Linked DNA regions of Homo sapiens. The protein of the gene in region 1 purifies or fractionates together with the protein of each later gene. This does not show direct contact. Each region holds a gene or a part of one and is shown in the gene's direction. Other genes may lie near its edges.

The links.
Region 2: the proteins of PANK1 (region 1) and NENF fractionate together in Homo sapiens (co-fractionation; one large-scale study listed by BioGRID). This does not show direct contact.

What each region holds. Positions count from the first base shown.
Region 1 is NC_000010.11:89,635,224-89,638,878, reverse strand, and holds part of PANK1 (pantothenate kinase 1), read left to right. Parts: intron 1-3,655.
Region 2 is NC_000001.11:212,439,281-212,442,935, forward strand, and holds part of NENF (neudesin precursor), read left to right. Parts: intron 1-3,284; coding exon 3,285-3,345; intron 3,346-3,655. UniProt on the Homo sapiens protein: Acts as a neurotrophic factor in postnatal mature neurons enhancing neuronal survival. Promotes cell proliferation and neurogenesis in undifferentiated neural progenitor cells at the embryonic stage and inhibits differentiation of astrocytes.

The sequences.
Region 1 (3,655 bases):
AAGAGGAGGAGAGCTGTAGTAAAAGTCTAAATCTCCTTAGAGATTACTTATGTGATGGTGATGAGAATGTTGGTAGAAATAAGAGCAATAAAGGCAATTCTGATGAGATCTCAGATGGAAAAGAGGAATAAGGTATTGGAAAGTGGAGTAAGGACCAGCCTTGTTATGAAGTGGCAAGGAATTTGGTTGAATTGTGTCTACACCCTAGGCTTTATGGAAGGCAGAATGTAAGAGCAATAAACTACGATATTTGATGGAAGAAATTTCTAAGCAAAATATTAACTGCATACAGGAAAATAAGAGAGAAATGACTTAAAGATAAAATTTATAATTAAAAAGGAAACAGAATTTAGGGATTTGAAGGATTCTCATCCTGGCCATGTGGTAGAGAATGAAAGAACATTTTCAGGAGAGAAGACCAAGGGTGTGGGCAAGCAACCAGTTGATAAGGAGATCAGTAGGGATAGAAGGAAGCCAGAGGCTGTTCATTAGGACAATGGAAGAATGACTCTGAAGGCATTTTGGAAATTACTGGTGCTGTCCCTCCCATCACAGGCACAGGGTGCCATGACCTCGGAGAAGGAAATACAGTCATGCCCCACATATAGACCTTTTCACCAAGGAAGGAGCACATATACAAAGGTAGTCCTATAAGATTATAATGGAACTGAAAAATTCTTATTGCCCAGTGGTATCATAACCATTGAACATCATAACTCAATGTGTTGCTCATCTGTTTTTGATGATGATGGTATAAACCTACTGGCTGCTAGTCATATAAAAATATAGCACACACAATTATGTATAATACATAATACCTTCTAGTGGGACAAGATGTGGGTGTGGAAGACCGTGATATTGATGACCCTGACTTTGTGTAGACCTAGGTTAATGTGTGTGTTTGCATCTTTGTTTTTAACAAATAAGTTTAAAAAGTAAAAAAAAAAACTAAAAAATTTTAAAAATAGAAAAAAGCTTGTAGAATGAGAATATAAAGAAAATATTTTTGTACACCTATACAATATGTTTGTGTTTTAAGCCAAGTGTTATTACAAGAGTCAAAAAATTTTTAAAATTAGAAAGTTTATAAAGTAAAACTGTTATAGTAAGCTAAGTATAATTGATTACTGAAGAAATAAATTTCTTTTTATAAATTTAGAGTAGCCTAAGTGAACAATGTTTGTAAAGTCTACAGTGTGTACAGTGATGTCCTAGGCCTTCACATTTACTCACCACTCACTCACCCAGAGCAACTGTCAGTCCTGGAAGCTCTTGTATGTGCCCTATACAGGTATGCCACGTTTTGTCTTTTAGACTGTACTTTTACTGTACCTTTTCTATGTTTAGGTATGTTTAGATACACAAATACTAACCATTGTTACAATTGCCTATAGTACTAAGCACAGTAACATGCTGTACAGGTTTACAGCTTAGGAACAATAGGGTTTACCATATAGCCTAGGTCTGTAGTAGGCTATAGCGTCTAGGGTTGTGTAAGTACACTCTATGCTGTTTGCACAATGACAGAATTGCCTAATGACACTTCTTTTCTCTGAAAATACCCGTCATTAAGTGACGTATGACTGTATATCAAAAGAGAGAACTAGTGTGCCCTCTGGATCTTGGAGTTCACTTCTCAGGGCTGCCTGAAGTCTCTGCTTGCCACATTTCATTACAGTGCTTCTTGCTCACCCCACCTGTGGCTCAACGGTGCTCAGGTGGGCCGGGTGCGGTGGCTGACGCCTGTAATCCCAGCACTTTGGGAGGCCGAGGCTGGTGGATCAGAAGGTCAGGAGATCGAGACCATCCTGGCTAACACGGTGGAACCCCGTCTCTACTAAAAATACAAAATAGCCAGGCGTGGTGGCGGGCGCCTGTAGTCCCAGGTACTCGGGAGGCTGAGGCAGGAGAATGGCATGAACCCGGGAGGCGGAGCTTGCAGTGAGTCGAGATCGCGCCACTGCACTGTAGCCTGGGCGACAGGGAGAGACTCTGTCTCAAAAAAAAAAAAGAGGGGTGCTCTGGTGTGGCTCAGGCCACAGCTTTGGAATGTGCAAGCAGCAAATCTTGGTGGCATCCATGTGGTGTTAAGTCTACAGACATGCAGAGTACACGACTTGTGGAGGCAGGCTGGGTGCGGTGGCTCATGCCTGTAATCCCAGCACTTTGGGAGGCCAAGGCAGGCGGATCACGAGGTCAGGAGATCGAGACCATCCTGGCTAACACTGTGAAACACCGTCTCTACTAAAAATACAAAAAATTAGCCAGGCATGGTGGCATGCGCCTGTAGTCCCAGCTACTCGGGAGGCTGAGGCAGCAGAATCGCTTGAACCCACGAGGTGGAGGTTGCAGTGAGCCAAGATCGCACCACTGCACTCCAGCCTGGGTGACAGAGTAAGACTCCATCTCAAAAAATAATAATATGAGGCAGGAGAATGGCGTGCACCCCGGGGGGCCGAGCCTGCAGTGAGCTGAGATCGCGCCACTGCAAGCCAACCTGCACTCCAACTCCATCTCAAAAAAAATAAAAATTAAAAATAATAATAATAATAATAATAATAACTGTGGATGCATGGCTTTCTCCAGCTAGATTCCAAAGAATGTCATAGACAGCCTGATGGCCCAGGCAGACACGTGTTGCAAGGGTGGAGCAACCCAGAGGGCCCTTACTAGGGCAGTGTGTGGCATAACTTTAGGGTAGGAGCTACCGCAGAGAGTCTCCTAGAGCAATGCCTAGTAAAGCCTAAGGAGTGGGCTCACACCAACACCCCAGAACTCTAGACCTACCAGCATGAAATACTAGCCAGGAGAGCCACAGGCACCTGACACCAACCTGTGAGAGCTGCTGCATGGGTAGCACCAAACAAAGCTGTAGGGGTAGGCCTGCCTACCTGAGGCCTTGGGGGCCCAACTGCTGCTCCAGTGTTCCCAGATGGTAGGATGTGGAGTCAAGGAAGATTACTCTGGAGCCTTAAGATTTAGTGTTGTTTGCCCTGTTGGGTTTTGGATTGACTTAAGACTATCCCTTTCTTCTTGCCTATTTGTGTCTTTTGGAATGGGAATGTCTATCCTTTGCCTATTCCACCATTGTATTTTGGAAGTAAGTAACTTGTTTGATTTCACAGGCTTACAGCTAGAGGGAAGTGTCCCTCAAGATGAATCCTGCCTTGAATCTCATCCATATCTGATTCAGATGAGACTGTGTACATTGAACTTCTGAGCTGATGCTGGAAAGTTATGACTTTTGGGGCTATTGCATGACATGAATGTGTCTTTTATGTGAGAAGAACATGAATTTGGGGAGCCAGGGTGGAATGCTGTGGTTTAAATGTGTCCCCCAGAAAGCACGTGTTGAAAATCCCCAGTGTAACAGTGTTGGGAGATGAGGCCTAATGGGAGGCATTTAGGTCATGAGGGCACCATCCCCATGAATGATTAATGCCATTATAAAAGGGTTTGAGGCTGTGAGTTCACTCTTTTGCTCTCTTGTGCACACATGCTCTTTTGCCCTTTTATGCTTCTATCATGGGATGATGCAGCAGGAAGGTCCTTGCCATATGCAGCCCCCCAATCTTGGCCTTACTAGCCTCTAGAATTGTGAGCCCGATAAATTTCTGTTCATTACAAATTACCCAGTCTGAAGTGTTCTGTTATA
Region 2 (3,655 bases), on another chromosome or scaffold:
CCAGCACTTTGGGAGGCCGAGGCGGGTAGATCACCTCACGTTGGGAGTTCAAGACCAGCCTGACCAACATGGAGAAACCCCATCTCTACTAAAAATACAAAAAAAAAAAAAATTAGCCAAGCATGGTGGCACACGTCTGTAATCCCAGCTACTCGGGACACTGAGGCAGGAGAAATGCTTGAACCCGGGAGGCGGAGGTTGCGATGAGCCAAGATCATGACATTGCACTCCAGCCTGGGCAACAAGAGTGAAACTCCTTCTCATAAAAAAAAAAGATTGTTTGCCGGGCGTGTTGCCTCATGCCTATAATCCCAACACATTGAGAGGTCAAGGCAGGCAGATTACCTGAGGTCAGGAGTTCTAGACCAGCCTGGCCAACATGGTGAAACCTGTCTCTACTAAATATACAAAAAAAAAAAAAAAAAAAAAATTGGCCAGGCGTGGTGACACACGTCTGTAATCCCAGCTACCCTGGAGGCTGAGGCAGGAGAATAGCTTGAACCTGGGAGGCAGAGGTTGCAGTGAGCCGAGATTGTGCCACTGCACTCCAGCCTGGGCAACCGAGCTAGACTCCGTCCCCCCCCCACAAAAAAAGAAAAGAGTGTTAGTGATAAGATGCATGTTTTTGTTTATCTTATGTATGTGAATGTTATATTTATATGGCTGTTTGCCCATAGAAAATAAGTGTCGGCTGGGCATGGTGGCTTATGCCTGTAATCCCAGCCCTTTGGGAGGCCGAGGCGGGCAGATCACTTGAGGTTAGGAGTTTGAGACCAGCCTGGCCAACATGGTGAAACCCTGTCTCTGCTAAAAATACAAAAATTATCTGGGTATGGTGGCGTGTGCCTGTAATCCCAGCTACTCAGGAGACTGAGGCAGGAGAATCGCTTGAACTGGGGAGGTGGAGGTTGCAGTGAGCCGATATTGTACCACTGCACTCCAGTCTGGGTGACAGAGTAAGACTCTGTCTCAAAAAAAAAAAAAAAGGAAAAAGAAAAGAAGTATCAAGGAGAAAGCCACAGAATGGAAGATATGACAAAATACTGGGGTTAAATGATAGCTGTAATATATTTTTAAAATTGATATAAATACATAATCCCACTTGATAAATAATCAAAGCTGAGGAATAAGGAAACCTGGTAAAGGAAAGGCGGTAAATCATCACAAAGAAAAATGCCGTCTGCTGGCTTGGAAATCCAGGCCGTTTCAAATGACCCGTGTTAGATGAGGTGGAGCAAGTGTCCACAGAGTCAATGGCAGTCCTCTAGGGCCTGTCTTTAGGAGCCGGTTTGGAGTAATAAAAGGCAGCCCTCTGCTGAGCTCCTGTGTCGTGCCTGCTAGGTATTACGTACACTCTTTTCCTCAGCATTCCCGAGGCAAGTGGGCGTTACCCTCATATGACAGGCAGAGAAGCAGGCCTGAGTGGTTATGAGGCAGTGAGGTGTGTTTCCTTGGGCAAGTTGCTTAGCTTCTCTGAGCCTCAGTAGCTCCTCTGTCTGTTAAATGGGATCATGAAAACCCTTCACCATAAGCTGCACAAGCGCAAGAACACTAAGGCCCACCCCAAAGAGAAGGCCAAGCAGCAGGTGCTTGCAGAGCCTGAGATTCCTATGGACCCAGCAGCGACTCCCACCCTCGCCTGGGCTGTGAGCCACCTGGCTGATGCCCCTGCACCTCTGATGGCACTGAGACAAAGGAGAGATCTTGTCTTGGGTGTCTTGGGACTGTACCCATCGTCCCAGCCTGAGCCCAACTTGATGGAAGCTAGAAAAGTCATGCCATCCTTTTTTGTGTAATTCTTTCTTGGTGGGGAAATTCTGAGGTAACATTTTATGCCTGCTAATAGAGCCAAAAAAAAGTGTAAAGCCCATTGTTAGTAGAACGGTGGGGAAACAGCATTGCTTACATATCTCTAGCACTATAAATGTTGTTACAGGACAAACTAATAAAATATAAACAGTGATTAAGTTTTCATATACTTAGGCCCAGGAATTCCATATATTGAAATAGGGCACTTTCCTATGCATTCACTGGGTGGAGAGAAATTTTTAAATAAAGGCCTCAATGAAATAAGTCACCAAATTAGAAAGTAATTGATAGAAACATGTATTCATAATGCTGCCATTTATAGTTCTAAGGATTGGAAACCACCCAAATACCCAAAATAGAAAGCTAGCTAAACAAATAGGTAGACAATATCACTAATATAAGATGGGGCCCTACGCCGGGCATGGTGGCTCACGTCGGTAATCCCAGCACTTTGGGAGGCCTAGGTGGGTGGATCACCTGAGGTCAGGAGTTCGAGACCAGCCTGGCCAACATGATGAAACCCCATCTCTACTAAAAAGACAAAAAATTAGCGGGGCGTGGTGGCGGGTGCCTGTAATCCCAGCTACTCAGGAGGCTGAGTCAGGAGAATCACATGAACCCGGAAGGTGGAGGTTGCAGTGAGCTGACATTGCGCCATTGCACTCCAGCCTGGGCAGCATGAGTGAAACTCTGTCTCAAAAAAAAAGATGGGGCCCCATGGAGCTGTTTAAATGACAGTCATTTTGGTGGAAATGTTTATATGAGGGAATGTTACCTGTAAGAAGCAAAATATAAAATAGATTGCTCATATCAGTCACATCCGTGTATGTCTATTGATGAAGAGGAAAGGAAATTTGGACTGATAAGTAATTCATCATTTACTATTCTTTTGAATTTTCATCTCCATGAAGTTGCTTCTGTTCCTGATTTTCTTTTTTTTGAGACGGAGTCTCACTGTGTCACCCAGGCTGGGGTGCAGTGGCATGATCTTGGTTCACTACGACCTCTGCCTCCAGGGTTCAAGCAATTCTCCAGCCTCAGACTCGCGAGCAGCTGGGATTACAGGCATGTGCCACCATGCCCGGCTAATTTTTGTATTTTTAGTAGAGATAGGGTTTCACCATATTGGCCAGGCTGGTCTTGAACCCCTGACCTCAGGTGATCCGCCCGCCTTGGCCTCCCACAGTGCTGGGATTACAGGCGTGAGTCACTGTGCCTGGCCCCTGATTTTCTCTATAAAGGAGAGAATTGCCACATTCTTGTCATGAGACTTTATGACTTTTCCAAATTTCTGTGTGCGGGCATGACGCTGCCCAGGCAGGTGGCAAGCTCGCCAAGGACCAGGCTTAACAGAAAGCCTTTGGGACTTGACCCACTGCTCTTTGCTCAGCTTGTGATGGGAGAAGATTTTACTAAGTTGCACTGGAAGAGCTGGCTCTTCCCTTCCTCTTCACAGCTTCTCCCCTGCTTTCTAGGAAGATCAGCCCATCTACTTGGCAGTGAAGGGAGTGGTGTTTGATGTCACCTCCGGAAAGGGTAAGTGGTGTGGCATTTTGAATCTTCATTTCCAGGGAGCACAGAAGCCAGAGTGAGCAGCACTTGGAGGTGTGAGGAAAGGGAGGGAACATTAGGCAAGTCCTTTTCATTCCATTTTATTTTATTTTATTTTTTGAGACGGAGTTTCACTCTGTCACCCAGGCTGGAGTGCGGTGGCACGATCTTGGCTCACTGCAACCTCTGCCTTCTGGGTTCAAGCAATTCTCTGCCTCAGCCTCCCGAGTAGCTGGGATTACAGGCACCACCACCACCGCTGGCTAATTTTTTTGTATTTTTAGTAGAGACGGGG